Linked DNA regions of Homo sapiens. The protein of the gene in region 5 interacts with the protein of the main gene of each other region in a pairwise test. Each region holds a gene or a part of one and is shown on either strand. Other genes may lie near its edges.

Region 1 (5,734 bases), on a different chromosome or scaffold from region 5:
GGCAAAACCCCATCTCTACAAAAAATACAAAAATAAGCTAGGTGTGGTGGCGTGCACTGTAGTCCCAGCTATTTAGGGGGCTGAGGTGGGAGGATCACTTGAGCTCAGGAGGTTGAGGCTGCAGTGAGCTGAGATTGCCCCGTTGCACTCCAGCCTGGGGGACAGAGTGAGACCCCGTCTGTAAAAATTAAAATAAATAAAATAAATAAAATAAAATTTATCTAAATTGACCCAGAACACATGAAGTAAGCCATAGCTGGAGCTCAGAAATGATTAAAGATTGAAAAAGGCACCTGATTCCAATGAAGTCACACCTCAGTCGTGTATAACCTTTGAAACAGATCATGCTAGTGTGTAAAGTTAACTATCTTAGCCGGGCGCGGTGGCTCACGCCTGTAATCCCAGCACTTTGGGAGCCCGAGGTGGGCAGATCACGAGGTCAGGAGTTCGAGACCAACCTGGCCAACATGGTGAGACCCTGTCTGTACTAAAAATACAAAAATTAGCTGGGCATCATGGTGGCATGCGCCTGTAATCCCAGCTACTCAGGCGGCTGAGGCAGGAGAATCACTTGATTCTGGGAGGCAGAGGTTGGGGTGAGCCAAGATCGCACCACTGCACTCCAGCCTGTGCAACAGAGACCCTGTCTCAAAAAAACGAAAAACAAAACAAAAAAACATATATAATATCCGTGTATTTATACACAAATTACACATTTTTATATATCTTATATGTTTCTGTGTATGTACATCTACCAACAGTAGGTGTTGACACTGTGTGTATCTATGTAGTTCTATGATAATGCAGAAGACTCTGGAAGAAAATATGCTGGCATGTGTGTGCATTACAGAGGGAGAGGGAAAGGCATGGAATGCCAAAGAGAAAATGAGAAACAAGGCCTCACTGAAAACACCAGATCTGATATATAAATAGGAATATGTGTTTAACTATCTTGTATGTTTGTAAGTGTAAATGTAGAAACAAAATTCTGCTTGTTTTTGGAATTTTCTTATGAAACCTCTGAAGTATTAAAAAGAAGGTACTGTGTGTTAGTTGATGGACCTGCGGCTTTGCTGGGTTTCCGGAAGGAATTCAGTTTTGCGTGGCAGGTACTCGAGGACCTGTGGGCAGCAGGCAAGCCCAGCAGCGCCCGTGCAGGGTCCTGTGGGAGACGCCATTGGAAAGCTGGTGTGGGCAGCCTGTACCTGGGGCCTCAGCCCTGATCAGGGCACTGGGCAGCAGGGGAGGGGGCATCTGGGGCAGAAGGAGCCAGCTGCATACCCACCTAGGCCTAGGAGAAGCCCCCCACTAGCTGCATGCGAGGAGGAGCTGGCCGTGGCTCAAGGAGGGGTCCCTGTGTGTGGTCTGGGCTCCCTTCAGGAGGTGACGGGCGTGCGCATTACCTTGTGTTTAGTAACTAGAAAGGAAGGGGCTAACATCAGCCCCTGGTGATGCTGGACAGCTAAGATTTGTGAGCTGAGAGGAACTGGAGAGATCACTGAGCCCCTTCCATACACAGGAAACTGGGGGTCTGGAGGGTGAAGGCCCTAGAGCCGGGACGCACTCCACCCAGGACACTGTTCCTCCAGAGTGACTTGCTTCCCACATCAGCCAAGTGAACGAGCATTTTAGAGACATTTTCTCATAAGTTTTTTTCCTTCCCACAGAACTGAACCAACAAGGGAGAGCAACAGAAAGACAGATTCCAGGCTGGTGGATGTGTCCCCTGACAGGGGTTCTCCTCCTTCCCGTGTGCCTCAGGCACTTAACTTTTCTCCAGAGGAAAGCGATTCTACTTTCTCCAAAAGTACTGCCACAGAAGTAGCTCGGGAGGAAGCCAAGCCGGGTGGAGATGCAGCCCCTAGTGAGGTGGGCAGAACGGGCGCAGCTGGGTTCTGTTAGCTGAGATTCCTGGAGGCTGCTCGGGAAGCCCGTGGAACCCAGGGCTGTGGCTGGCGGAGTTCCCTGCCATGCTTCATCCTGGGGCCAGTGCCTCCGTGCCAAGCAACCCAAAGGGAGGCAGTCAGGACTTCCAGGCCTCCAGGGGAGAAAGCCCTGCATTTGACTAAGGCAAGGGTCAGGGATCAAAGCTGAGGAAGCGGGAAGCAGGGTGGCAGGAGCTGGTGGCTGCTGGTGAGCGGGTATGGACAGGGAGGTGGGCAACAGTCAGAGAGGCACGGCCCACCCCATACAGAGCCTCCTTCCACCAAGGCCCCGCCTGATTCCTTGGCTTTCCAAACCGCCAGCCCACCTGGAACATGAGCAAAGCTCACATTCTCCCAAGATGGTTGCCAGAAAGATGCTGGACTCTGCTCTTAACCTTGGTTTTGTACCCAGGCTCTTCTTGTAGATATCAAACTGGAACCACTCGCGGTCACTCCAGATGCTGCAAGCCAGCCCCTCATTGACCTTCCTCTCATCGACTTCTGCGATACCCCAGAAGCACACGTGGCTGTAGGATCTGAAAGCAGGCCTCTGATCGACCTCATGACAAACACTCCAGACATGAATAAAAATGTGGCCAAACCTTCACCGGTGGTGGGACAGGTGAGAAGTGGCAGGTGGTTCATGTTGACTCAGCCCTGGGTGTCCTCAGTTCTGGGATTGTTCATCCTCCCAGGGCCATCGTGGGACCCTTGAGAGTGGCTGTTGAGTCTTCTCAGCTACACACCTCAGGGCAGGATGCACCTTTGGCAGCCTGAGCTTCTCAAAGATCAGCTGCCTCTGAGGTGCCCTGCCAGGACCCTGCCAGCTCTTGTTGGACAGGGACCGCCTCTCTCCTGCCCATAGACCCCAGGGCCAGATGTGGGACAGAGGAATGTGCATGGTGGGGGCCTGGGCTTCTCCGTGTGTGTCCTGTCTCCTTCCAGCTTCTTAGACGTGGTGGCCCAGAGTGCTTTTCAGTGCACCCGAGCCAGGATGAGCGAGTGGCTGTGATGACCCACGCAGCCAGTCCTCTGTGCAGGGAGGGGAAGGGAGGCCCTAGCCGGATCCACGCTCACCTCCTCCACTCTGCTCTCTTCCAGCTCATAGACCTGAGCTCCCCTCTGATCCAGCTGAGCCCTGAGGCTGACAAGGAGAACGTGGATTCCCCACTCCTCAAGTTCTAAGCCGAACCAAATCCTTTGCCTTGAAAGAACAGCCCTAAAGTGGTTTTCAACCCTCAGAAACAAGCTTTAGGCTGGTCGCAGTGGCTTACACTTGTAACCCTAGAACTTGGGAGGCTGAGGTGGGCGGATTACTTGAGCCCAGGAGTTCGGGACCAGCCTGGGAAATATAGTGAAACTCCTGTCCCTACAAAAAATACAAAAATTAGCCGGGTGTGGTAGTGCATGCCTGTAGTCCCAGCTACTTGGGAGGCTGAAGTGGGAGGATGGCCTGAGCTCAAGGAGATGCAGGCTGCAGTGGGCTGTGATTGTGCCACTGCACTCCAGCCTGGGCACCAATGTGAGAACCTGTCTTGGAAAAAAAAAAAAAGAAACATGTTTTAGTAGAAGTTTTATTTGAAAAAGAAAAATAAGCATAAATATATTCCCAGTGCTGGAGAGGGTGGGCTGAGGGACTGGGGCCAGCACGGACCACCCAAGGCCTCTGCTTCCCGCCGCCACCCTCCTCGCTGCCATTCTCTGGGCTGGAATGTGAAGCCTCAGTCACTCTAAATGAAGAATTTTCTTTTGAATGTTTTGTATGTAAAATAGCAAGTGGCTATTTTTAAAGTTAAGTTTGTATAAATAGTTAGATATTCTAGATTTACATTAAATTGTAAAATAAATGGACTTATTGAAGCATATCTTGATTTTTAAGCTTATCTTGATTTTCAAACATGCATAGCTATTTTTATCACTCTAATCAGTAAGGCTACTATCTAGACTCGAATGCTTTCATACAAGTGATTTTCAAAAATTAGTCAATAAAAATTGATGTCAGTGCAGGCCCAGGCCCGCCCCCAGATACACTAGTTTCTAGGTCTGGGGCCAGCCTAGTAATTGTTACTAGGCACACAGGTGATGCTGACTCGATGGCCTGAGACACACCCCTTGAGAAGAAGCTGCTCTGGGGAGACGAGGGTATGAGTGGAAAGAGGATGGGCGAGGAGGCCGGGCTTACCTGGACACTAAGGTGATGGACGGCGTCTGCTGGGCAGGCCTCGGGGAGGACCCCTCAGCTTTGCTCTCAGCAGGGGCCCGACAAGCTCAGTGGGCAGTGGCAGGAACTGAGTGCCACTGGAAAGCCCATTCCCTTTATTTAGAAAACGAGCTCCAGGAAGCCGCTACTTTGTGTCCATTTCTCTTGAGGAAACTTACCACCTTGGTTGAGCGGCTTCATGGCAGACAGCAGCGAGCCAGCGGCCGGACTCTGTATTTCGGACCCCACTCCAGTGCTCCCTGGGTCATACCAGGATCTGCCTCTGTCCACAAAGATGAGGGAAAATGATGACTGTGCTGTGCTCTCTACTTCCTGCGGTTACTGCGTGATTCTAAAGCTGCCACTCGGAACAGCGAGTCCTCTGCCGTCGAGAGCAGGGAGGGGTAGGGTGGACAGGCGATGCCGTGGAAAGACGTCTCGGTGGAAACTGCCATGGTGGAAAGGTGGCGCGCTTCTCACGGCTGAGTTGCTGCGCCTGCAGACGGAAGCTCCCCACAGGCAGAGCTGCTTGGATGTGTGAGTCATGAAGCCAGAGAAGCCCCGCTCCATGAGCAGTGACTCCCCAGGTAAGACTTTCAGCCAGTCCTGCGCTGGCCAGAGTCGCCGGGCCCGTGGGAATCACGGCGGCTCCACGTCTCCGGGACAGCAGGGAATCCCAGGGGCCTGGTAGTGACACCGGAGGGTCCTCAGGGAACCTCTGGTCTGGCCCTCATTTCCCAGGGGTAGAAAAGGAAATCTGAAATTGGATTAAACCATGCAGCAAATATTTACTGAGGCTCTGCTATGGGTCAGGCTGTTTTCTGCTGGGTGCAGCGGGGTGCAGCGCTCAGGTACCCCTTCCCTCTTAGGGCTTCCCACTGGGTAGAGGAGGGAGATGTTCAGCTCCCAGCTCATCTGTAACCAAGCTGTGCCTCAGTTGTCTCCATTCAGGCCCTGGGGGTGAGCCCAGCCTTTGGCCTGTGGCCCCAATCCCGCTGCTGGGGCTCCTCCCCCCTGTGCCCTTCCCCTCCCCGGTGCGGCTTCAGTGCAGCCAGGCTCTCCTTGGTACCCAGGCCAGACAGAGTGATCTGACTTTAACTCTCTACAGACAGACAGGAAGAGGGCCCAGGAGCAGGAGCTGGACAGAGCAGAGCTGCTCCTGTCCTGAGGCTCCAGGCCCATTCCTTTCTGTCTGGGTTTCTCCACTGGGCTCTTCCTGCCGAAGCCACCCAGTCTGAGCTCCCCCACTCCCTCTCCTGGTACACAGGCCCTTGGTTCACCCCTCAGAGGGCTCCGGGTGGGAAGATGCACAGTTAGTTGGAGACTGAAGGGCTCCGTGGCCCCAGGAGGGCCAGCCCCTTTCTCCATAGGATGGCACCGAACACCTCAGCTGCCACTGGAGGGCCACCCTCCCAGGTCCAAGACGTCCAACTTCATGTGATTTTTTACCACATTTCATTAATTTTGTGGAGCAAATGTCTTCCCATTTTACATCTCTGAAATCCACGTCTCTGACATTGCTGTTGGCAGGCGGCACCTGGGATGTCGTCATCCTGGCCATAACTAGCCTGTAGTGGACCTGGGTGATACACAGGGGCCTCTTGGAGCT
Region 2 (5,793 bases), on a different chromosome or scaffold from region 5:
CACGGAGCTGTAGGTGCTTTTGGGAAAAGCCATGGATGGGTTTGGGCAAGTCATAGATACATTTGGACGAGCCTTGAGTGTGTTCAGGAGAGCCATGGATGGGTTTGGGCAAAGCCATCTCTGCACCTGTTTGTGTTCCATGGTTTCCTTTTCCTCCTCTCCAGGCAGGGTTAACACAGAGTATCCCCATCCTGCGGCGGGACCATCACATCCAGAGGGCCATCGGTCTCTCCCCAATGTCCTTCCCCACCGCCGACCTTACTCTGAAGGTAACACCAGCCCTGAGCTGGGTGAGGGCCCACCCAGTACCTTAGCTTACAAAGAGGCAGAAGGGAGGAGTCCCCGAACCCCTAAAGCTTAGATTGGCTCTGTCCACTGCCAGCGTGATAGTAATTTTCATCCCTCCCCCTCCCCTTGCTTCTGAAGATGGAGTCTGCGCGCAAGGCTTGGGAAAACTCCCCCAGTTTGCCGGAGCAGAGCTCTCCAGGCGGCGCTGGCTCAGGCATCCAGCCTCCATCCTCTGTGGGTGCCTCCAGCGGGGTCAACTACAGCTCCTTCGGTGGAGTGTCCATGCCACCCATGCCTGTGGCCTCTGTAGCACCTTCTGCTTCTATGCCAGGTATCTCATCCCCTGAGCAAGGCCTTGGGGTCCTTCTCCATTTATTATCAAGAAAAACGGATTAACAGCCCCGAATGTCACCTCCTGGCCTTGTCTTAAGTAGCATGTAGAAGTAGCAACTTGTTTTTAGGCCCAGTGGTCGTAGCTCCCATGTGCTGCAGGTAATGTGCACGTCCTGCTTCCCCACGCTGGGAAACAGAACTGGGGGATAACAGCGAGGCACTCCTGCCTACTGGTGACAGGAGCGAGCAAAGGCTTGACTTTGAGTCAGACCTGGGTCATGTGCTGGAGCCGTGTCGCCTCGGCTGGTGAGCAGCTCTTGCCGAGCCACAGTGTCCTCTCCTCTCTTACATGAAACTCCGTGGGGTGGCCACACCCGTGAGGCCAGGTCTTACCTGGAAAGGGCTTTGTATCAACAGAGCCCTCAGTCACTGGCAGCTACTTTTGTCCTGATTGCTGCCATCCTTATCGTGTGCCAGTGTCCCCAAGGGGAAGCGTGGGGGTTTTGAGGGCCCAGCTGCCAGTCTCAGTGATGTAATTCCAATAGATCCTTCTGACCCTCCACTGTGGACTCAATAGCAGGGAGATGAAGAGGACAGTGACTGAGAGACCAAGGCAGCCCTGGTTAAAGTAGAATGCCCCTTCGAGTGTCTGGGGTAGTTGGTGAGTGGGAGGTGGGAAGGGTAGGCCAGAGCCCACCTGCCTCCTCCCTCCTCCTAGGTCTGACGCTGCACCCTCCCTACGTTCCCTGAGGTGCGTGCCAGGCGTGTTGTGAGCAGGCGTGTGCTTCCGGCACACAGGGAACCTAGCAGCCTCTGTACACACGCCCTCGTCCCCACTGAGTCCCCTGGGTAGAGCAGACCTGTAGACTGTTTCCCTCAGGGACATTGAGAAGTAGTGAGGCTTGATCCTCTTCTACGTCCCTTTTGCCGCTCTGTTTCCAGGCAGCCACCTCCCGCCCCTGTACCTGGATGGCCATGTGTTTGCAAGTCAGCCCCGGCTGGTTCCTCAAACGATACCTCAGCAGCAGAGTTACCAACAGGTGACAGCAGCTAGCCAGGTGGCCTGGCTGGGGGTGGTGGGGAGGAGCCAGTGCAGGGCGGAATTGGCTTGCTCATCTATTTCTCATTGTCTGTCTGGTTTTCCATCCCCCTCACATGTGGTGACCAGCACCTGGCCCGCCACGGCAGCCAGGAGGCATTTGTTAAGCGAATAATCGAGACAGGGAAGAGGAGTGGAGTTGGCTGCTCCAGACTCTGCTTAGTTTTCCTTTCTCAAAGTTCTCCCTCCTGTGTCCTAGCCGGGGAATTAGCTAAAATGGAATTTTCTTTGGTGATCAGGTATCCTTCTGATGAAGAGAAGAAAGGCCTAAACTCCCAGGCATGGATGCATTAGAAAGAGGTAGTCTTAGAAATGAGCAGGCGTTGGTTATTTATGCAGGACTGGCATACTTTCTGTGCTGCCAAGGGGTGATTTTTGGAAGTCTCCCCTCTAATGCTGGTGCTGGGCCTTTGGGATGGTCTAGCCGCCCCTCAGACCCATGTGCCTCCACAGCCACGACAGTGGACTTCCAGGCAGAATCTGCTCCAAGTGCAGGCTTGCTGATGGAGGATGTGGCCTCTGCTGACCTCTTTTTAAAAACATGTTCTTAACTGCTGTATTGTTTGGTTACCAAGATTTTGGTTCTTGCATAACTGGGTCAGACTGCATGTATCTTTCTTTTTGTGCATTGTTAAATTCAGCGTTATGTTTTTGGAACTCACCTCTGTTGACGTATGTGCTAGGATCCATTTTTGTTGCTGTGTAGAATTCCAGGGTAGGGATATGCTGTGGTTTGGGGTTGCTACCAGTTTTTCATTATAGGCTTTATCCCAATAGCAAGGGAAGCCCAGGAATGACATGCTGGCATTTGAATTTTGGGCAGTGTTCCAGCAGCCATGTGGAGAGGGGCAGGGGAGGTGGGAGGGGAAGAACCACCTGGATGGGCCTTGCGGTTACCTCCCCGACCCCGTTTTCCCGTTCACAGGCCGCCGCTGCCCAGCAGATCCCGATCTCCCTTCACACATCTCTGCAGGCACAAGCTCAGCTTGGACTGAGGGGTGGGCTTCCTGTGTCCCAGTCCCAGGAGATCTTCAGCTCCTTGCAGCCCTTCAGGTGAGCTCATGTACCAGCTTGCGGAGCTGGCAGCTCACAGCCAGGGCCTTGGCCCTGTGTGCAGCCTTCGTCCTGCAGCTGTTTGGTGCTTGTCTGCTTTGGGGCCAGTGGGGCGGGGAGGGGTGGGAGTTTGCTCTGAATCACTCTTCAGTCCGTTGTTAACTGTGCTCTAGGAGAGGCCTGGGGCGAGCTGATATGTGGTGGGCCGTGTTTTGCTTTTCCATGTCATCTTGCCTCCTTTCCTTGCTCCTTCCTCCTCCTCTCCCCTTGACTCCCTGTCTCCTCCCCACCGCGGGCTTCTCCGTCAGTGTGGCTGCCAGTCATTGTGGCTGATGTCCTGTGCCTCGTACAGCCTGGATGTCTTCACTTGTTTAATCCAGCAGCATCAGCGCCATCTAGGAGCTTGTTCTCAGGCCCCATCCTGGACCCTCTGAGTCGCGCTCTGGGGGTGGGGCCGGGGATCTGTGGTTTAGCAAGCTCTCCGGGGATCTCTGAAGGGTGGGACCAGATCCGCAGCTGGACTCATCCACCTGATCCCGACCATCTGTCTGGCTTTTGCAGATCTCAGGTGTACATGCACCCCAGCCTGTCACCGCCCAGCACCATGATCCTCTCTGGGGGCACAGCCTTGAAGCCTCCATACTCGGCGTTCCCAGGCATGCAGCCCTTGGAGATGGTGAAGCCGCAGTCTGGCTCACCCTACCAGCCCATGAGCGGGAACCAAGCCCTGGTCTACGAGGGCCAGCTCAGCCAGGCTGCTGGCCTGGGTGCCTCCCAGATGTTGGACTCCCAGCTCCCACAGGTCAGGAATTCAGTCACTCTACCCAAAGCCCTAGGCTTCTTTCCTTCACGACCTTGCCTTTTCTTTTCACCCGCCTCTCAGTGTGTGCTGGCCTATCGTGCTGTTGGTTGGTAGCCACCGTGCCCATTCCTCAGCGTGCAGGAAATCAGCCTCTTCTGAGTAGCCCCATCACCTTTTTTTTTTTTTGGACAGAGTCTCGCTCTGTTGCCTAGGCTGGAGTGCAGTGGCATGATCTCGGCTCACTACAACCTCTGTCTCCCACATTCAGGCGATGCTCCTGCCTCAGCCTCCTGAGTAGCTGGGACTACAAGTGTGTGCCACTGTGCCTGGCTAATTTTTGTATTAGTAGAGATGGGGTTTCACCATGTTGGCCAGGCTGGTCTCGAACCCCTGACCTCAAAGTGATCTGCCCGCCTTGGCCTCCCAAAGGGCTGGGATGACAGGCGTGAGCCACCACCCCTGGCCCCTCATCCATCTCTTTATTCTTGAGACCTGGCTGTCCCCTAAGCACTGCCTGCTCCTGCAGCCCCCAGACGGGGGCTCCTTCCTTTCTCCCTGCCCTTGTGCAGTAGGGTGTGGAATGGGTTAAGAGTCCTCTTTGTGTAGTTGTTGATGCTTCTAGACTCCTCTTCTTCCTTCCTCCCTGAAACGCCAGCTTTGAAGCCCACACCATAGACTGTGCCTGACAAGCCCTTCACTCTGCTATGGTGCCATCACCACATCCAGTGTCTGCTGAGAAATCTTCCTCTCCGTCAACCTGTGGGCAGTATTTGGCACCTTTGAAGGTCACCCTCCTTGTCTGGTCTGGCTTGCAGTCTGTCTCCACTCTCCTGTTCCAGTTCCTAGTGGTTTTGATGTCTGCAGAGATGACCCCGGGTCTCTGTGCCATGGACCCTGTCCATGCAGTTTGTGCCCTCCTCGCCACTGGTGCCCTTGTTCACATGGGCCCCTGCTCTGTGCACTCCTGTCTAGGCTTGGCTGCTCCCAGTAGCTGTGGCTCTCGCATAATCTCAACTCTCAGTGTCCCTCTCAGTTGTCACCTCTGGCTTTTTCAATTCACTCCCTCTAGTGACCCAACTCCAAAATTCTTTTTTTTTTTTTTTTTTGAGATGGAGTTTCGCTCTGTTGCCCAGGCTGGAGTGCAGTGGCGCAATCTCGGCTCACTGCAACCTCTCTGTCTCCTGGGTTCAAGCAATTATCGTGCCTCAGCCTCCCGAGTAGCTGGGATTACAGGCGCCCACCACCCACCGGCTAATTTTTGTATTTTTAGTAGAGATGGGGGTTTCACCATGTCAGGCTGATCTCGAACTGCTGACCTCAGTGAGCCACCCACCTTGGCCTCCCAAAGTGCTGGGATTACAGGTGTTAGCCACCACACCCAGTCTCTGCCACCCATGTTTTTGTCATCCTCCCCCTTGGCCTGGCTTCTTCCTCCCCATCAGCAGATCTGCCGAGCCACATGGCCTTTGCATTTCATCCAAGCTGTGGCTCCCAGTCAACCCCCACCCTCCTAGCAGCTTTTCAGACTTGCATCTTGCCCCTCGCTGCCTCCCACCCATGACCTCCCTTTCTGTGTCACCCAGGAAACAGGAGCAGTGACAGTCTCCAAGCCCCTGTGGCCACATCCCTGCCTAGGTGCTGCCTGTGCCCCTGGGGGGCCCTGCCCCAGCACATCTCCCTCTCTTTCATGCATCAGATATCCCTTCCCGTCAGTACACAGACGAGCTGCAGTGCTGACCCCGTAATCCCGCCCCCCACACCCCTCGAACCACTTTCTTCACCCAGTTTCCAGGCCGTCGCTCCTGGCTTTCCTGCTGCCTCAGGCCTCCTCCTCAGTCTCCTTTGCTGTCCCCTCTCCTTCCCAGTCTGTAATGGTCAGCATGCCCGTGGGCCCTGCTTTGGGTGTGTTTCAAGAGTCATGGCTCTAAATTCCTTCATCTTCTCCTCACTCCCAAATGGACATCTTTAGCTCAGATCTGTCCCTGGAATTGAATCTCAAATCCAATGGACTTTCCAGCATGTCTGCTATGGTGTCTTATGGCATCTCAAGACTCATCATATTCAAAACTCGATTTTCCTCCCGGTCCTTCTGCTTGTCCAGTCCACATCCTCCTTGGCTCCCTGCTCCCCCTCACCTCACCCCCTTACCCTTCAGCAGGCCTGTCAGCTCTGGCTTTAAAAGGATTCAGAATCCAGCTGTGTCTCATCCCCTCCACAC
Region 3 (5,793 bases), on a different chromosome or scaffold from region 5:
CTCCATTTACCCTGATGTGATTAATATGCATTATATGCCTGTATCAAAATATCACATGTACTTTATATATACATACACCTACTGTGTGCCCACAAAAACTTAAAAAAAAAAAAAGAAATATCGTGACTGGATATTGCACTTAAGATCTTGGGAGTCCACTGCATGTGAATTTTGCTTCCATTTTTTAAATGATTCTTGAATATAGGGCAAATACTTAGGAAACCAGAAGCTATGAGATTGCGGATAATCACTTGAGTTCAGTATTACAAAATATGATTTTAATGACCCATTTTACAAATGTAAAAGTTAGTGTTCTGTCTCTGTAGAGTTGCTCATTCCCGATCAAGGTTCTGCAGGATACTTTGTGAACTATCTGGAGTTGACATGTACAACTTCAGGATGCCCTGTTTGATCAGTTGTAATTTTTGAGAAAAAAAGAGGTCAGAAAAACTGGTCTGAAGACTGGCTCATAGAAGCTCTAGAGCCTCTAGACTGTAGAAGAAACTTAGTTTTCTCATCTGAACTTATATTTGAAAAAGAGGTGATATATACCTTCAACAGTGTTTAGGCAGGTACGTACTACCAAATCTCATTGTCAAAACCAGGACAGTAACATTGAAATAACCACTTCGATGTGAAAGTAATTCTATAATTAACCCTGTTGTCTCTTCTTTTTTTTTCTTTTTCTTTTTTTTTTTTTTTGAGACAGTCTCGCCCTGTTGCCTAGGCTGGAGTGCAACGGCGCGATGTCGACTCACTGCAACCTCCGCCTTCCAAGTTCAAGCGATTCTCTTTCCTCAGCCTCCTAAGTAGCTGGGATTACAGGCACCTGCCACCACGCCCAGCTAATTTTTGTATTTTTAGTAGAGACAGAGTTTCACCATGTTGGCCAGGCTGGTCTCGAACTCCTAATCTTCATGATCTGCCCACCTCAGCCTCCCAAAGTGTTGGGATTACAGGCGTGAGCCACCACACCCGGCCAGTGAACCCTGTTGTCTCTTAAGACACACAAGATCATGCCCTGTGAATACAGAGTGGAGGGGAGTGGTCAGGACATGAGGGTGAAGCCCATCCTGGACTGAGACCACCTAGAATCAAATTCCAGCTCTGCCAACTAAATCCTGTGCATTTCTGGGAGGCATTAGTGTACCCTGCCAAAATGTGGCTGTGATCTGGTGTAACATACCATCACCTCCAGCAACACCATATGGCAGACTACACCAGGATCTCCTCCTATGCCACTCTTATTTTTATTCTCTTAGGGTGATCTCTCCTGTTTTCATTATCCTGCACCCTGCACATTACACAAGTGTGCACACACAGTGGTAATCACACACATTTCTTCCATCTTTTTTCTCTGTGGTTTTCTCCCTTGTTTGACACTCCATTGCCAAATAATGAATAGCTATTTTGCTATCCAAAAGGAGCAGTTCAGTGCCAACATGTTTTCAAGCACCTGCCCTTCTGCAGGAAACTCGTCTTTCGTCTTTATTTCCTCTTTGTTGGAAGTAAATTTGCCCTCTTATTTGCTGACATTTTCAAACTTGTACCACTTCTTTCTCGCTATGGTAGATGACTGGAGGTAAACCTACTGCTCTTCTTTTTCTTTTTTTATGTAGAGTATAATTTATAATACTTTTGGTATTCCATTTTTATATATAAATTTAAATTTGAAACTTTTGATAAGTTTTAATTTTCAAATGACTAGTTTTTAGCAAATAAGTTGAAGTTTTATTATAATGGATTTGATTCTTCTTTTCCAATAGTAGCTTACTTATTTCGTTTTTAACAAATAATTTCTGTGTCTTTCTAAGATCATACTTACTTTTTGTTCATCTTTGTACAAGTTGATAGGAGTCAAATTCTACAGGCATGCCAGTATCCACTCCCTGTAATCTTCTGCAAAGTAGGTTTTTAAAAAGTTGGCAGTAGCACATCAAAACATTGTCTTTATGTTTCACTCATATTTTTCTTTAATTCTTGTGATTTACTAAAAGCTCACTGAACAGTTCTGTTTACTATATATTATAGTATACCATTCACCATTGTAATGCCAAAAACAGAATTTTGTGTGTCATTACAGCTATAATAGAAAGGAGCACTGAGAAGCCTGTGTCCTGGTCGTCCTTCCCGTTTTATGAATCAGAGAGGAACAAGACTATGTCAGAAAATTGTTGCATTGTGTTACTTTCATTGTAAATATCACAAAGTCATGTAAAGTTACTGGGATTCGATGATACATAAAAGTGGGGGGCAGTTAGTTCTATCTCTACACAGACTTTGATAGATGGACCCTCATCTACTGCTTGCTTTGACTGTGGCTAAAGTTTATGTTGGACTGAGACATTTGGGATTTGGAAATAAAGTTAAAGACTTCTCATACCAGTCACTTATAAGTTCTAGTAAGTAACTTGGGGGTGGCCGTGGGAACATGGGGTTAGGCAGTGGTAACAAAGAAATAAGCCCTATTCTCATGGAGCTTACTTTGGGAGTGGTGATACTCAACAGACTGTAATTTGAAGTAGAAGCAATTAACTTTGTCGATAGGTTCTTGGAGATACAACTTTAAACAAAATGAGTATATTGCAGCCTCTTTTTTCATCAATGTTATAATGAAACCATGTTGAAAGCAGTGGCATTATTTGAGGACCTGCTGTCTGTCGTTTCACTTAAAGTTAGTTTTAAAGAATGTATTGACCACATTAAGTGAGGATCTACTGTAATCTAGGGATGGCCCCTGGAGAAGGAAGGTAGCATTTAGGTTGAAGTTTGTGGGGATGGGGATAGGTAGGATTTGGAAAGAGAGAGGGGCAGAGAGTGCGCAGGGGAGCACTTAGGATGGAGGAAGTGGGAATATGCACAGAGATGAATGGTGGAGAGCAATCTGGTTTGACTTAAGATGTTACTTACATACGTGTGTAAAGTAGTAGGTTAATGGGCTTAACTTGAGAGGATATTTTGGGACCAGATTATAGGCAACTAAAGTTTTTTATATTTTTAGATAGTAAGAAACCATGAAAGTGTTTTGAGACAGAATGTTGAGAAACATGATGAAAATTGTGATTTGGGCAATTAATCTGGCCTTTGTGTAGAGATTGATTGGAGAACAGACACCATTAGCAACATGTTTTAGTAGTTTGGGTGCTATGCCAAAAACAACTGGAACAGTAAATGGAAAGAGTGGGACCAATTCAAGGTAAATGGGGTGGCCAAACATTTTGATGATTAGAGACTATCCTGATTTAGGTTTGAAGCATGGTTATTATTAGTGCCCATTTTTGCTTTTAAAAGTTTTCTGCTTTGGACAATAAATCATATGGTGACCCTAAAGATAGATTGCTGTAGCATTGATAGCACTTGCTAATTAGATTGAAAGGAGACAGGGATGGTGGTGTAAGAGAGCAGAATATACGGTTTTTTAGAAGTTATTATTTCACTGAGTTTTCATATTTTGAAGAATTAAGCATAAAATTTCCTTACCTAAATTCTGTAATCAAATCTTGTATGTTTAAAATTATTTGTGTGCACATGTGCACGCGCGTGTGTGTATGTGTGTGTTTAACGAACACATTTGAGTTTTGGAATATTCAGCAAAATGATAGTTGCTGGCTGGGTGCAGTGGCTCACACTTGTAAACTTAGCACTTTGGGAGGCTGAAGCAGGAGGATCACTTGAAGCCAGGAGTTTGAGACCAGCCTGGGCTACAAAACGAGACCTTGTCTCTACAAAAAATAAAAAAAATTAGCCAGGCATGGTGGCGCGTGCCTCTAGTCGCAGCTACTTCGGAGGCTGAGGTAGGAGGATGGCTCGAACCTAGGAATTCAAGGTGGCTGTGAGCTAGGATCATGCCACAGCACTCCAGCCTGGGTAACAGAGCAAGACCCTGTATCTAAAAACAATAAAATTAATTAAAGTAATTTTAAAATGATAGATGCTGAAGAGAATATGTTATGTTTAGTCTTATCTCACATTTTCATTCATTTCTATTTAAAAGTAAAGCTTTTTAGGGGAACTTTAATAAATCGGTGTAACTGACAAAAAATTTACAAATACAATATGCTGTATATCAACATGCCTTTACTGAGAAAACAGAGAAAGCAGGCTCCATTATGTTAGCACCTTTTGGTTCTTGATCTTTTTTTCCCCTTATTAAAACAGGTGACTGTAGTCACATGATACTTACTTTAAGGCTTGTGTGTAGATATAGCTATTATATTTGTGGACAGTCTCAAATGCTTTCATCTCATGTGTTTTCCATGTATAGGCAGAAGGAGAAGACAGCCTGAAGAAGATGCAGCTGATGGAGCTTGCGATTCTGAATGGCACCTACAGAGATGCCAACATTAAATCACGTAAGAATGAGCTCTGAGGCCCAGGGTTACTGCTGTCTGCGTTGTTTTGTCTACAGACTTTTTTCCTTTTGGCAACACAATAATAGTTCATACAAAGTGAACAGTTGAAATAACTGTTCTGTCACTTGATATGGGGCTGACAGTCCTATTTTTAATGCTTTCATGAATTGAGGACACTCTTGATTTTATTTTATGTCAGCATGTTGAAGTTTTAGGTTGATAAACTTACATTATTTTAACAAAATCACAATCTCTAAATTCAAGTGTTTAAGAAATTTTCTGTTTGGTTAACTACAGATGTAGGGCTTGCAGCTTATCTTGTTAAATTTATGCAAAAGACAACATATTGAAAGCTTATTTTGAAAAAGTGAATTTGAAGTGTATCTGACTGAAATGACCCTCTGTTGAGTTCTGTCCTTTCACTTTGCTTGCATGTTTTCCCTCTAGTATTTTTCCCTGTTGATTTCATATGTGAGTTCACAGAGATCAGTGGGTGATAACTCTTTTTCCGTCCTATTTTTGTTTTTATGCGTATCTATGCATGTTTTTATAAGCCGTAAGAGGATAGCTTTTTTATGTTTAAAATGAAATAATGTGAAATTTATATTTTGAAACAATTTAAGATTCATACATGTCATTTATATGAACATACCATGTTTAAATTACTGATTATTTAAAACACATAGAATTTTTAAGTTCTAGCCAGATTTAGAAGATGTAGGCAACCTCTAGTGGGTTTAGAAGTAGTTACTTTACAAATTGTTGACATTAATTTACTCATGAAAATGTGAGTATATCATTAATAGGAATTTAGAAGTAGGGCTTTTTAAGATTTTCTGTGACGTTGGTTCCTAAAGATGCAGGAAATGTACATATATACCTAGTGGTTACTTGACTAAATGCAATAAAAATTATTCTTTCTTTACTTTGAAACTAAAGCTGTACTTTAGAAATATACCAAAACTGAGTTTCTGTGGACTCCGGTTACAAATTATTTTTTAACATCTGTTAATGCAAGTGTTTCATTGTGCTTCTGCATGTACTTTAGTCTTATGAAATCTTAGATATATCAAATGTATGAACTAAATATAACCTATTTAATGGTGTCATTCATTTTTTTACAATGGCTTTTTAATTTTTGCACATTCTTAATCACATTGGGAAAGGGAAAGCTGTTTGCATTTGATTGGTGTGCTTTTGCATTTTTGTGTGATCAGCGCATGTACTAATGATTTCCTTTTATTTTTCTTCTTTCCTGCTTTTCCTTTCTTTTTCCTACTCCCTTCTCATTTTTCCGTATTTTATACTGCTGTCTCTATACTTCTTTCTAAATTTCTTTGCTTACTGTAGCAGCCCTTGCCTTTTCTCTTGCAGCAACAGCCCAGGCTGCTCCAAGGATCATTACTGGGCCTGCGCCGGTTCTCCCACCAGCTGCCCTGCG
Region 4 (5,793 bases), on a different chromosome or scaffold from region 5:
TCTTACCATATGATTTAGCCACTGCACTCCTTGGTAATTATCCAAAGGAGGTGAAAACTTATGTCCACACAAAAACCTGCACATGGATGTTTATAGCAGCTTTACTCATAACTGCCACAACTTGGAAGCAGCCAAGATGTGGGCTACATACTATATGATTCCAACTATATGACATTCTAGAAAAGACAAAACTGTGGAGACAATAAAAAGATAGTAGTTAGCAGGGGCTGAGGGGAGGAAGGGATAAACAGGTGAAGCACAGAAGATTTTTAGGGCAGTGAAACCACTCTGTACCATACTACTATGGTAGACACACATCATTATGCATTTCCCCAAACTCTTAGAAGACACAACACCAACAGTGAACCCTAATGCAAACGATGCGCTTTGGGTGATGATGACATGTCAATGCAGGTCATCAATTGTAACAAATGCATTACTCTAGCACAAGATGTTGATAATGAAGGAGGCTGTGTGTGTGTGTGTGTGTGCAGGCAAGGGGCATATGGGAAATCTGTACTTTCCTCTCAACTTTGCTGTGAACCTAAAACTGCTCTCGAACATAAAATCTATTTTTTTAAAAAAGCCTAAGCAGTTACTTTCCATTTCAAAGTAATCATTTAATTTTAAAATATAGCTTCCCTTGCCATTCTTAAAATCTGCAAAATATATGCTAATTAAAATTTCCAAATATATAAGTACATAAAGTGAAAAGTTAAATTACTTCCTTCAACCAAATCTCACTCCCTAGAGGAAAACACCACCCACATCTATAGCTTCATTAGTATCCTTCTACTTCTTTGCCTATGATATAAACATTTGTGTATCATATTTTTATACGGATTCCCATAATGGAATCACACCACACATAGTATTGTGGCAACTTTTAAAAAAACTTTAACATACTACTGACAAGCTTTACAAGTTGGCACAGATGCACCACACAATTCTTAAAGCTGCAATGATCCCATGTAAATGCAAAAGCCATCATTCACTAGGCACACACCAAAGTTCAACAGTCCATCAAAATGTCTACAAAGACAACAAATGTAAGCCTGCAATGTATGCCCTGTGTTATGAAGACAGAAGGCTGTCTCACATATTAAACATAAGACATATAATGACGCTATGTGTATGGGGGGGTCGAGTATATTAAAAGGCTCCTCCAAGTGACTAACACCAGAGGTAAAAGTAAATTAAAAGATTCAAAGTTGAATCCATTAAGTAGATAATGGATTTAAAATAATTTTTAAAATTCATATGCTTCACAAATTTATCCATTTGTCAATTCATAACATGAGTCCAGGAATAAAAAATAATATTAAAACACAGCCTGTTCTTTTAGTAAACATAACTTTTATGCTCACCAAGGCCAATAAAAAATTAGAAATAGCTTACCTGTTCAAGAATGGTTAAATAAATTATACCTATCAGTATGAGAGATCCAATGCAAGTTGCTTTCAAAAAATACTTAATGACATGGAAAAAATACGAACAAAGTTTTAAACAATTCAAACGTAAGACTGTACGTATTTATAATCTCAAGGTGAAGGAAATTCCCACAATAGACTATTTTTAAAAGATTATGTGTTAAGCATGCTTTTCTTTTGGTTGTACAATTTCAGACAAATATATATATTTTTTGTCATTTTCAGACATTACTAATATCATCAGGAAAAAGTTTCTTTTAGAAGGAAAATAACTTTTTAAAAAGCCCACACATAATTCAAGAGTGTATGTGACTCTCTTAATAGAGCAATCAGTATGTATATCTTCTATCTTACTTCATATGTTCAAACACATTAACAGTCACATGTAACAAGTGACCTTGATATAAAGCCCCAGTCACACTCCTGCTCACTCCACGAGCTGACCCTGAGGCTTACACAGCATCCTGGACTACTTCTGCAGGGCACTCATGAGAGCGGTACGTGATGAAGACCGGCAGCGCCGTGGCTATTCAGCCACCGCACAAACCCAGCCTGGAGCCCCTGGAGCAGGCCAGATGGAACTATGATTTTTAGATAGCCATCAGTTGGCCTGACTTCTCCCAGCTCTTTGACAGGAAAGCACCATGCTACAACAGTGTGAGGGTACAACTGTATGAGGGTCCTGCATGCAAACTGCTACACAATGGCCTATCTTCTGCACATTACCAGCAACTGTCACTGAGCCTTCAGGCCTTAGTGTCCAGGCACCTAACAGAAGTCCAAGGGCAGGAAACAAATCCTTTCTAAATTCAAGAGGTAAAGCGAATGGGTGAGGCCTGTTTTCTTTATCTTTCTTCTTTCTACTTGCCTTCGTACTGGCATGTACTCCACTGCTCCTTCAGCGGAAATTCATCAGAAGCCATTTTAGGAACTACTAACCAGACACTATTTCTTCCTGGAAGTCTCAAATCAATCCATTTGAGAGAAATGCCTCAACTTGGTGGACTAAAACTCTGAGATCAAATGTTGAACAAAGTGAATTAACCTGCTGTAATAAGTTTTCCTGAATTTGCTGCATCATTAACAAGACAAAGATGTAATAAAAGCCTGGAAAATTCAAAAGTTACACTATGCAGTTTTAAATATTACTACAGTTAAGTCCTCAGTACCATGGACAGGTTCTTGGAAACTGTGACTTTAAACAAAACAACATAAAACAAAACCAATTCCTTTTTTCATCAACATCATAATGAAATGATGGTGAAGAAAATGTTACTGGAGGACCTACTATACAGCCTTTCATTTAAAGTTGCAGTTTCCAAGAACCTATTGACAACATTATGTGAGGACTTAATGTATTTCAATTTTTATAAAAGTCTTTTTTTTCTATATTGGAAAAAGTGCTATCAGCATGTTAGAAGTAGCGTGTTGAAAATGGGCTGTCAAAGCGGCTTGACTCTGTTACAACCTTTTCCTTCTGAGGCACCACAATACCTTTCAGCTACCATATAAAAAGGAGTATACTAGATTGGGCACGGTGGCTCAAGCCTGTAATCCCAGCACTTTGGGAGGCCAAGGCAGGTGGATCACCTGAAGTCAGGAGTTGGAGACCAGCCAGACCAATATGGTGAAACCCCATCTCTACTAAAAATACAAAAAAATTAGCCAGATATGGTGGCATGTACCTGTAGTCCCAGCTACTCCGGAGGCTGAGGCAGGAGAACTGCTTGAACCCGGAAGGCGGGGATTGTAGTGAGCCAAGAAGCCAAGATCGTGCCACTGCACTTCAGCCTGGGCAACACAGTGAGACTCCCTCCCCACAAAAAAAAAGGTATACTAGGTGATTCTTTTAAAACAATAGCTACAGCCGGGCACAGTGGCGTGGGTGGCTCACGCCTGTAATCCTAGCACTTTGGGAGGCCCAGGCAGGCGGATTGCCTTAGCTCAGGAATTCAAGACCAGCCTGGGCAACATGGTGAAATCCCGTCTCTACTAAAATACAAAAAAAAAATTAGCCAGCGTGGCAGTGTGCGCCCGTAGTCCCAGCTACTCGAGAGGCTGAGGCAGGAGAATTGCTTGAACCCGGGAGGCGGAGGTTGCAGTGAGCTGAGATCGTGCCACTGCACTGCAGCCTGGTGACAGAGCGAGACTCCGTTTCAAAAACAAAACAAAACAAAACAAAACGCACAAATAAAACAATAGCTGCACTAGATGTTACAGCCTCATTATAAACTGTTCAAACAAAGAAGGTCATATAAGTGCACAATGAAAGGCTTCCCCCAATACATCCTCCCCAGCTCCATGGACATCAAAGCCCACAGCAAGATTTAATGTGTAATGTTTGAAATGAGACAATTTAAAGTGTACAAAGGAAAAAGAAAAAGAGAGAAACCCTCACCTCACCTTTGATAACACTGCAGCTGGTTTTACTACTTCTCTTAGAAGAGAAATGTCGGTAGAGACAGAGTGGACAGGTCCCCACTTGGGTTGCTTCTGTATCTCTGACATATTGTTCTCTGCACCTTGCAGTTCAGGAAAGTCCAGTGTGGTAAATTCAAACTCAGGTTTGGAGGTAGATACATTTTTTGCAATGATTCTGGATTTCCTGTCTGTTCGCTTATGGTAACCATCTGTAATTACAAAATTAAAAGTAAGAGTAAAAATTTAGTTACTGTTTGATGACCAGTATGCAAGCAAAAATTGCAGAGTACAAAGACTATTGCTATTGATGCAACAGGTTGTTGTCAAAACACCGTAACTCTTACCGGTGTTGTTCACCTTCCTTTGTAAAAGTATAAAGTTTAAATGACCATAAGTATCAATCACTCTGGTTGGACCATCATGCAGAAAAACCAAAATGCACTGTACATTTAGGAGTATGTATAGTCACGCGCCACATATGATGGTCTGATCAGCAATGGATTACGTATACAACAGCCCCATAAGATTGTAATGAAGCTGAAAAATTCCTATTGTCTACTGGTAATGTCATGGTGCGATTACTCACGTTTGTGGTGATGCCAGTGTAAACAAACCTACTGAGCTAACAGGCATATAAAAGTATAGTACATGCGATGATGTACTGTACATAATACTCGGTAATGACAATAAACAACTATGTCACTTGTTTATGTATTATACTTTTTATCTTTGGAGTATATACTCCCACTACTTACAAAAGAAAAATTTGGCCAGGGCAAGGTGGCTCACGCCTTAATCCCAGCACTTCGGGAGGCTGAGGCAGGCAGATGCAGCCACGAGTTCCAGACCAGCCTGGCCAACATGGTAAAACCCCAACTCTATTGAAAATACAAAAATTAGCTGGGTGTGGGGGCGCATGCCCCCTAGCTACTTGGGAGGCTGAGGCACAAGAATTGCTTGAACTTGGGAGGCAGAGGTTGCAGTGAGCCAAAATAGTGCCACTGCACTCCAGCCTGTGTAACACAGTGAGACTCTGTCTCAAAAAAAAAAAAAAAACACAAAACGACAAAAGAAAAACTTAAGTATAAAGCAGCTTCAGGCAGGTCCCTCAGGAGGGATTCCAGAATAAGGCATTGTTATCACAGGAGATGACAGCTCCACGCATGTTACTGTCCCTGAAGACCTTCCAGTGGGACAATATGTGGAGGTGGAAGACAGTGATACAGATGATTCTGACCCTGTACAGGCCTAGGCTAATGTGTGTGGTTGTGTCTTCGTTTTTAATTAAAAAGTGTAGAAAGTTAAAAAAAAATTAATAGAAAAAAGCTTATAGAGTAAGGATGTAAAGAAAGAAAATATTTTTGTCCAAGCCAAGTATTTTTGGTTTTTCTGCATGTTTGTGTTTTATTACAAAAGGTAAGTGTTATTACAAGAGTCAGAAAGTTAGAAAAATTAAAAATGTATAAAGTAAAAAAGTTACAGTAAGCTAAGGTTAATTATTGAAAAAAATACTTTTATAAATTTCATGTAGCCTAAGTGTACAATGTTTAGAACGTCTCCAACAGTGTACAGTAACACCCTAGGCCTTCACATTCACCCACCACTCAGTCATCGAATCACCCAGAGCAACTTCCAGTTCTGCCAGCTCCATTCATGGTAAGTGCCCTATACGGGTAAAACATTTTATATCTTTTTTTTTTTTTTGGAGACGGAGTCTCGCTCTGTCTCCCAGGCTGGAGTGCAGGGACGCTTGATCTCGGCTCACTGCAAGCTCCGCCTCCCGGGTTCATGCCATTCTCCTGCCTCAGCCTCCCGAGTAGCTGGAACTACAGGTGCCCGCCACCACGCCAGGCTAATATTTTGTATTTTCAGTTGAGACGGGGTTTCACCGTGTTAGCCAGGATGATCTTGATCTCCTGACCTCGTGATCCGCCCGTCTCGG
Region 5 (5,793 bases):
AGTTCAAGGTTACAATGAGCTATGATAACTCCACTGCACTCTAGCCCAGGCAACAGAGTGAGACCGTGTCTCTTAAAAAACAAAATAGGCTGGGCGTGGTGGCTCATGCCTGTAATCCCAGCACTTTGGGAGGCCGAGGTGGGTGGATCACAAGGTCAGGAGATCGAGACCATCCTTGCTAACATGGTGAAACCCCGTCTCTACTAAAAATACAAAAAATTAGCCAGGTGTGGTGGCGGGCACCTGTAATCCCAGCTACTCAGAGAGGCTGAGACCGGAGAATGGCATGAACCCAGGAGGCAGAGCTTGCAGTGAGCCAAGATTGTGCCACTGCACTCCAGCCTGGGTGACAGTGTGAGACTCCATCTCAAAAAAAAAAAAAGGCCAGGTGCAGTGGCTCACGCCTGTAATCCCAGCACTTTGGGAGGCCGAGGCGGGCAGATCACAAGGTCAGGAGATTGAGACCATCCTGGCTAACATGGTGAAACCCCGTCTCTACTAAAAATACCAAAAAAAAAAAAAAAAAAAATTAGCCGGGCGTGCTGGTGGGCGCCTATAGTCCCAGCTACTCGGGAGACTGAGGCAGGAGAATGGCATGAACCCAGGAGGCGGAGGTTGCAGTGAGCCGAGATCGCGCCACTGCACTCCAGCCTGGGCGACAGAGCAAGACTCTCTCAAAACAACAACAAAAAAAACGAAAACAAAAGGCGGGGTGCTGTGGCTCACGCCTGTAATCCCAACACTTTGGGAGGCTGAGTTGGGTGGATCACTTGAAGCCAGGAGTTCAAGACCACCCTGGCCAACATGGTGAAACCTCATCTCTGCTAAAAGTACAAAAATTAGCTGGGCCTCCCAGGATCAAGCGATTCTCCTTCCTTAGCCTCCCAAGTGGCTGGGATTATAGGCGTGAGCTACCACGTCTGTCTCTTTTCTTTTTTTTTTGAAACAGAGTTTCACTTTTATTGCCCAGACTGGAGTCCAGTGGCACAATCTAGGCCCATTGCAACCTCTGTCTCCCAGGTTCAAGCGATTCTCCTGCCTCAGCTTCACAAGCAGCTGGGATTGCGGGCGCGCCATCCCACCCAGCTAATTTTTTGTATTTTTAGTAGAGATGGGGTTTCACCATGTTGTCCAGGCTAGTCTTGGAACTCCTGACCTCAGGTGACCCACCTGCCTTCGCCTCCCAAAGTGTTGGGATTACAGGTGTGAGCCACCGCACCCAGCCCTTTTTTGTTTTGTTTTTTTTTTTAAACAGGATATCCTTTTGCCAGTCCTGACATAGTTTGTTAAGAGAGACAAACCTATCCATTAAAATCTCCTGTATTAAAAGCATGGTCTCTGGAGCCATACTCTCATATTAGCTGTGTGACTTTGGACAAATTACTTAACCTCTCTGTTCCTCAGTTTCCTTATCTGTAAAATAGGAATAATGATACACTTATTGCATATGGTTGTTTTGAGGATTAAAAGAGTTAATTGGTGGCCGGGCTCCCAGCACTTTGGGAGGCTGAGGCAGGCGGATCACGAGGTCAGGAGATCGAGACCAGCCTGGCTAACATGGTGAAACCCTGTCTCTACTGAAAATACAAAAAATTAGCCAGGCGTGGTGGCACACACCTGTAGTCCCAGCTACTCAGGAGGCTGAGGCAGGAGAATCGCTTGAACCCGGGAGGCGCAGGTTGCAGTGAGCCGAGATTGCGCCCCTGTACTCCAGCCTAGGCAACAGAGCAAGACTCTGTCTCAAGAAAAAAAAAAGTTAATCGGTATAAAGCACTTAAAATAGTCTGTGGCCACATAGGCAGTGTTACGGAAATGTTTGCTTACACTTATTTTTGTTTCTGTCTTCATTTAAGGAGCCGTGTAAAGCCAGTGGAATATAGTCAGATGTACAGTTATAGCTACAACCAGTATTATCAGCAGTACCAGAACTACTATGCTCAGTGGGGCTATGACCAGAACACAGGCAGCTACAGCTACAGTTACCCCCAGTATGGCTATACCCAGAGCACCATGCAGGTAACCATGACTTGGCAAGACTGGTCCCCTTGGGTTGTGTTTCTCCTCTAGAAACAGGTCATTCTCTAGGATGGGATTGGTAAGGACAGGGGCTTGGGCTTCAGAAAAAATAGGGAAAGTTGAAGCAGTCCAGTTCCTCTTGTTAAAAATAAGCCATTGTGGGTAGGGCCCAGTGGCTCACACCTGTAATCCTAGCACTTTGAGAGGCCGAGGCAGGTAGATCACCTGAGGTCAGGAGTTCAAAACCAGCCTGGCCAACATGGTGAAACCCTGTATCTACTAAAAATACAAAAAATTAGCTGGGCATAGTGGCAGGCGCCTATAATCCCAGCTGCTCAGGAGACTGAGGCAGGAGAATCTCTTGAAACTGGGATGCGGGTGTTGCAGTGAGCCGAGATCACGCCACTACACTCTAGTCTGGGTGACAGAGCTAGACTCCACCTCAAAAAAAATAAAAAATATAAGCCACTGTGGTCCTGGGCCAGGATTTCACCATGCCCCTAACCCACATCTCTGGTCTCTTGGCAGACATATGAAGAAGTTGGAGATGATGCATTGGAAGGTAAGGGTTCATACGTTCCTTACTCTGTCAGCCATTATCAGGTGACTGCTGTGGCTGGCACTGTGCTCTCAGCTAGAGGGAAGACAAGATAAATTCTGCTCTGGAAGAACTTACATTCTGGTTAGAGAGCCAGACAAATATGTAATTATGGTAAGATGTGTCGGGTGTTACCCAGAGGTGTAAGTGTAGATCCCAGAGAGCCTGGGACAGGCAGCTCCAGGAGAGCCCATCACCCCCTTGACATGTGGCATTCTATCCTGGTATGTGGGCCTCTAACGATAATACTGTTACCCTTTTTTTGTGTGTGTGTGTGGTGGAGTTTCACTCTTGTTGGCCAGGCTGGAGTGCAATGGCATGATCTCAGTTCACCGCAACCTCCACCTGCCAGGTTCAAGCAATTCTCCTGCCTCAGCCTCCCGAGTAGCTGGGATTACGGGCATGCACCACCATGCCCAGCTAATTATTTTGTATTTTTAGTAGAGACAGGGTTTCTCCATGTTGGCTTGGCCGGTCTCAAACTCTCAGCCTTAGGTGATCCGCCCGCCTCAGCCTCCCAAAGTGCTGGGATTACAGGCATGAGCCACTGTGCCTGGCCGATAATACTGTTACCTTTTATTTGTTTGACTGTTTGTAAAATTCATTTTTTATTTATTTTATTTTTTTTCTGTTTTTCAATATATTTTAAAAGACATATTTTCCTGATTTTTAAGTCATCGTTAGGATGGAAAATTTGGAAAATATAGTAAAGTATGGGCCAGGCATGGTGGCTCACGCCTCTAATCCCAGCACTTTGGGAGGCCGAGGCAGGTGGATTGTGAGGTCAGGAAATCGAGACCATCCTGGCTAACACGGTGAAACCCCGTCTCTACTAAAAAATAGAAAAAATTAGCCGGGTGTGGTGATGGGCGCCTGTAGTCCCAGCTACTCGGGAGGCTGAGGCAGGAGAATGGCGTGAACCCGGGAGGCAGAGCTTGCAGTGAGCCGAGATCGCACCAATGGGCTCCAGCCTGGGAGACAGAGCGAGACTCCGTCTCAAAAAAAAAGAAAAAGAAAATATAGTAAAGTATAATGAAACTGAAAATCACCCCATATCCTATTACAACATAGTAATAGCCATTATTAATTTTTTCTTTTTCTTTTTTTTTTTTTTTTGAGGCAGAGTCTTGCTGTGTCACCCAGACTGGAATGCAGTGGCGCAATCTCATCTCACTGCAAGCCCGCCTCCCGGGTGCAAGTGATTCTCCTGCCTCAGCCTCCCGAAGAGCTGGGATTTCAGGCACATGCCACCACGCCCAGCTAATTTTTGTATTCTTAGTAGAGACGGGGTTTCACCATCTTGGCCAGGCTAGTCTCAAACTCGACCTCGTGATCCGCCTGCCTCGCCTCCCAAAGTGCTGGGATTACAGGGGTGAGCCACCGTGCCCAGCCCATTATTAATTTTTTAATTAAAAATATTTAAGCCTTGCACGGTGGCTCACCCCTGTAATCCCAGCCCTTTGGGAGGCCAAGGAGGGTGAATCATGAGGTTAAGAGATCGAGACCATCTTGGCCAACATGGTGAAACCCCGTCTCTACTAAAAATAAAAAAATTGCCAGGCGCGGTGGCTCACCCCTGTACTCCCAGCACTTTGGGAAGCCACGGCGGGAGGATCACCTAAGGTCGGAAGTTCTAGACCAGCCTGGCCAACATGGTGAAATTCTGCCGGTACTAAAAATAAAAAAATTAGCCAGGCGTGGTGTTGCGCGCCTATAATCTCACCTCCTCAGGAGGCTGAGGCAGGAGAATCACTTGAACCCGGGAGGCGGAAGTTGCAGTGAGTCGAGATCATACCACTGTACTCCAGCCTGGGCAACAGTGCAAGACTCTGTCTCAAAAAAAAAAAAAAATTATCCAGGCATGGTGGCCCATGCCTGTAATTCCAGCTCCTTGGGAGGCTGAAGCAGGAGACTCACTTGAACCCGGGAGATGGAGGTTTCGGTGAGCCAAGAATGCTCCATTGCAGTCCATCCTGGGTGACGAGAGTGAAACTCCGTCTCAAAAAAAAAAACAACAGTATTTACTGTCTAGGCACGGTGGCTAAAGCCTGTAAGGTCTTTGGAAGGCCAACGTGGGTTGGAGGATGGCTTGAGCCTAGAACTTTGAGACCAGCCTGGGCAACATAACGAGACCCCATCTCTTTTTTTTTTTTTTTTTTTGGGAGACGGAGTCTTGCTCTGTCACCCAGGCTGGAGTGCAGTGGTGCAGTCTCCAATCTCAGCTCATTGCAACCTCTGCCTCCCAGGTTCAAGTGATTCTCCTGCCTCAGCCTCCTGAGTAGCTGGGATTACAGGCATGCACCACCACGCTCGGCTAATTTTTGTATTTTTAGTAGAGACAGGGTTTCAGCATGTTGGCCAGGCTGGTTTCGAACTCCTTACCTCAAGTAATCCTCCCGCCTCAGCCTCCCAAAGTGCTTTGATTACAGGCATGAGCCACTGTGCCCGGCCAAGTATTTATAATTTTCACTGAATTTCACAGAAGAAAAAGGAAAGAAAAACTGAAAGCCAAGCATGGTGGCCTGTGGTTCCAGCTACTTGGGGGAGGCTGAGGCAGGAGGATTGCTTGGGCCCAGGAGGTTGAGGCTTCAGTGAGCTGTGACTACAGTTGTGCCCCACCATAACTGGCTATTTTTTTCTATTTTTTTGTAGAGGCAGGGTTTCACCATGTTGCCCAGGCTGGTCTTGAACTCCTAGGTTCAAGTGATCTGCCCATCTCGGCCTTCCAAAGTGCTGGCATTATAGGCATGAGCCACTGCTCCTGGCCAAAACTTTTTTTGAGGTACAAAAAGACTCAAAGTTTGAAATCTGTTTTGAGGATTCGTCTTCAAGAGAAAGTCATAGGGAAAATGTTTTCTGTCAAGAAAATGTTCGTTAAAGGAAACAGATCCCTTTTAGGGCATGAACAAACTTGTCTAGTTCATAACATTTTAAAGCACTTTCTTGTGTCCTCTCATGTGATGCCAACTGTAGTGACCTTGTGGGGTGGGCTGGGAAGGACACAGGAGCTCCATTTCACAGATGGGAAACTAGTGGCTCGGAAAGCCCAAGTGATCTGCTGAGGGTCACACAGTGTGGGGCAAAGTCAGGACAGTCCGGTCTTTTTATATTCAAGTCTCTAGTTGTTTCCCCCTGGGAGACATTGCCTTCTTTCTAGAGATAATTAGCCTCATAATATC

What was found.
Region 1: the proteins of TRNAU1AP (region 5) and GTSE1 interact in a two-hybrid assay, tested with the Homo sapiens proteins (one large-scale study listed by BioGRID).
Region 2: the proteins of TRNAU1AP (region 5) and PRRC2B interact in a two-hybrid assay, tested with the Homo sapiens proteins (one large-scale study listed by BioGRID).
Region 3: the proteins of TRNAU1AP (region 5) and QKI interact in a two-hybrid assay, tested with the Homo sapiens proteins (one large-scale study listed by BioGRID).
Region 4: the proteins of TRNAU1AP (region 5) and SECISBP2 interact in a two-hybrid assay, tested with the Homo sapiens proteins (one large-scale study listed by BioGRID).

The regions. Positions count from the first base shown.
Region 1 is NC_000022.11:46,327,021-46,332,754, forward strand, and holds the end of GTSE1 (G2 and S phase-expressed protein 1), read left to right. Parts: intron 1-1,667; coding exon 1,668-1,869; intron 1,870-2,337; coding exon 2,338-2,547; intron 2,548-3,026; coding exon 3,027-3,110; 3' UTR 3,111-3,790; downstream 3,791-5,734. UniProt on the Homo sapiens protein: May be involved in p53-induced cell cycle arrest in G2/M phase by interfering with microtubule rearrangements that are required to enter mitosis. Overexpression delays G2/M phase progression.
Region 2 is NC_000009.12:131,484,522-131,490,314, forward strand, and holds part of PRRC2B (protein PRRC2B), read left to right. Parts: intron 1-164; coding exon 165-269; intron 270-426; coding exon 427-619; intron 620-1,143; exon of another isoform or gene 1,144-1,229; intron 1,230-1,563; coding exon 1,564-1,661; intron 1,662-2,645; coding exon 2,646-2,773; intron 2,774-3,334; coding exon 3,335-3,575; intron 3,576-5,793.
Region 3 is NC_000006.12:163,557,718-163,563,510, forward strand, and holds part of QKI (KH domain-containing RNA-binding protein QKI), read left to right. Parts: intron 1-4,264; coding exon 4,265-4,352; intron 4,353-5,702; coding exon 5,703-5,793. UniProt on the Homo sapiens protein: RNA reader protein, which recognizes and binds specific RNAs, thereby regulating RNA metabolic processes, such as pre-mRNA splicing, circular RNA (circRNA) formation, mRNA export, mRNA stability and/or translation.
Region 4 is NC_000009.12:89,326,927-89,332,719, reverse strand, and holds part of SECISBP2 (selenocysteine insertion sequence-binding protein 2), read right to left. Parts: intron 4,061-5,793; coding exon 3,834-4,060; intron 1-3,833. UniProt on the Homo sapiens protein: mRNA-binding protein that binds to the SECIS (selenocysteine insertion sequence) element present in the 3'-UTR of mRNAs encoding selenoproteins and facilitates the incorporation of the rare amino acid selenocysteine.
Region 5 is NC_000001.11:28,569,323-28,575,115, forward strand, and holds part of TRNAU1AP (tRNA selenocysteine 1-associated protein 1), read left to right. Parts: intron 1-1,853; coding exon 1,854-2,016; intron 2,017-2,544; coding exon 2,545-2,578; intron 2,579-5,793. UniProt on the Homo sapiens protein: Involved in the early steps of selenocysteine biosynthesis and tRNA(Sec) charging to the later steps resulting in the cotranslational incorporation of selenocysteine into selenoproteins. Stabilizes the SECISBP2, EEFSEC and tRNA(Sec) complex.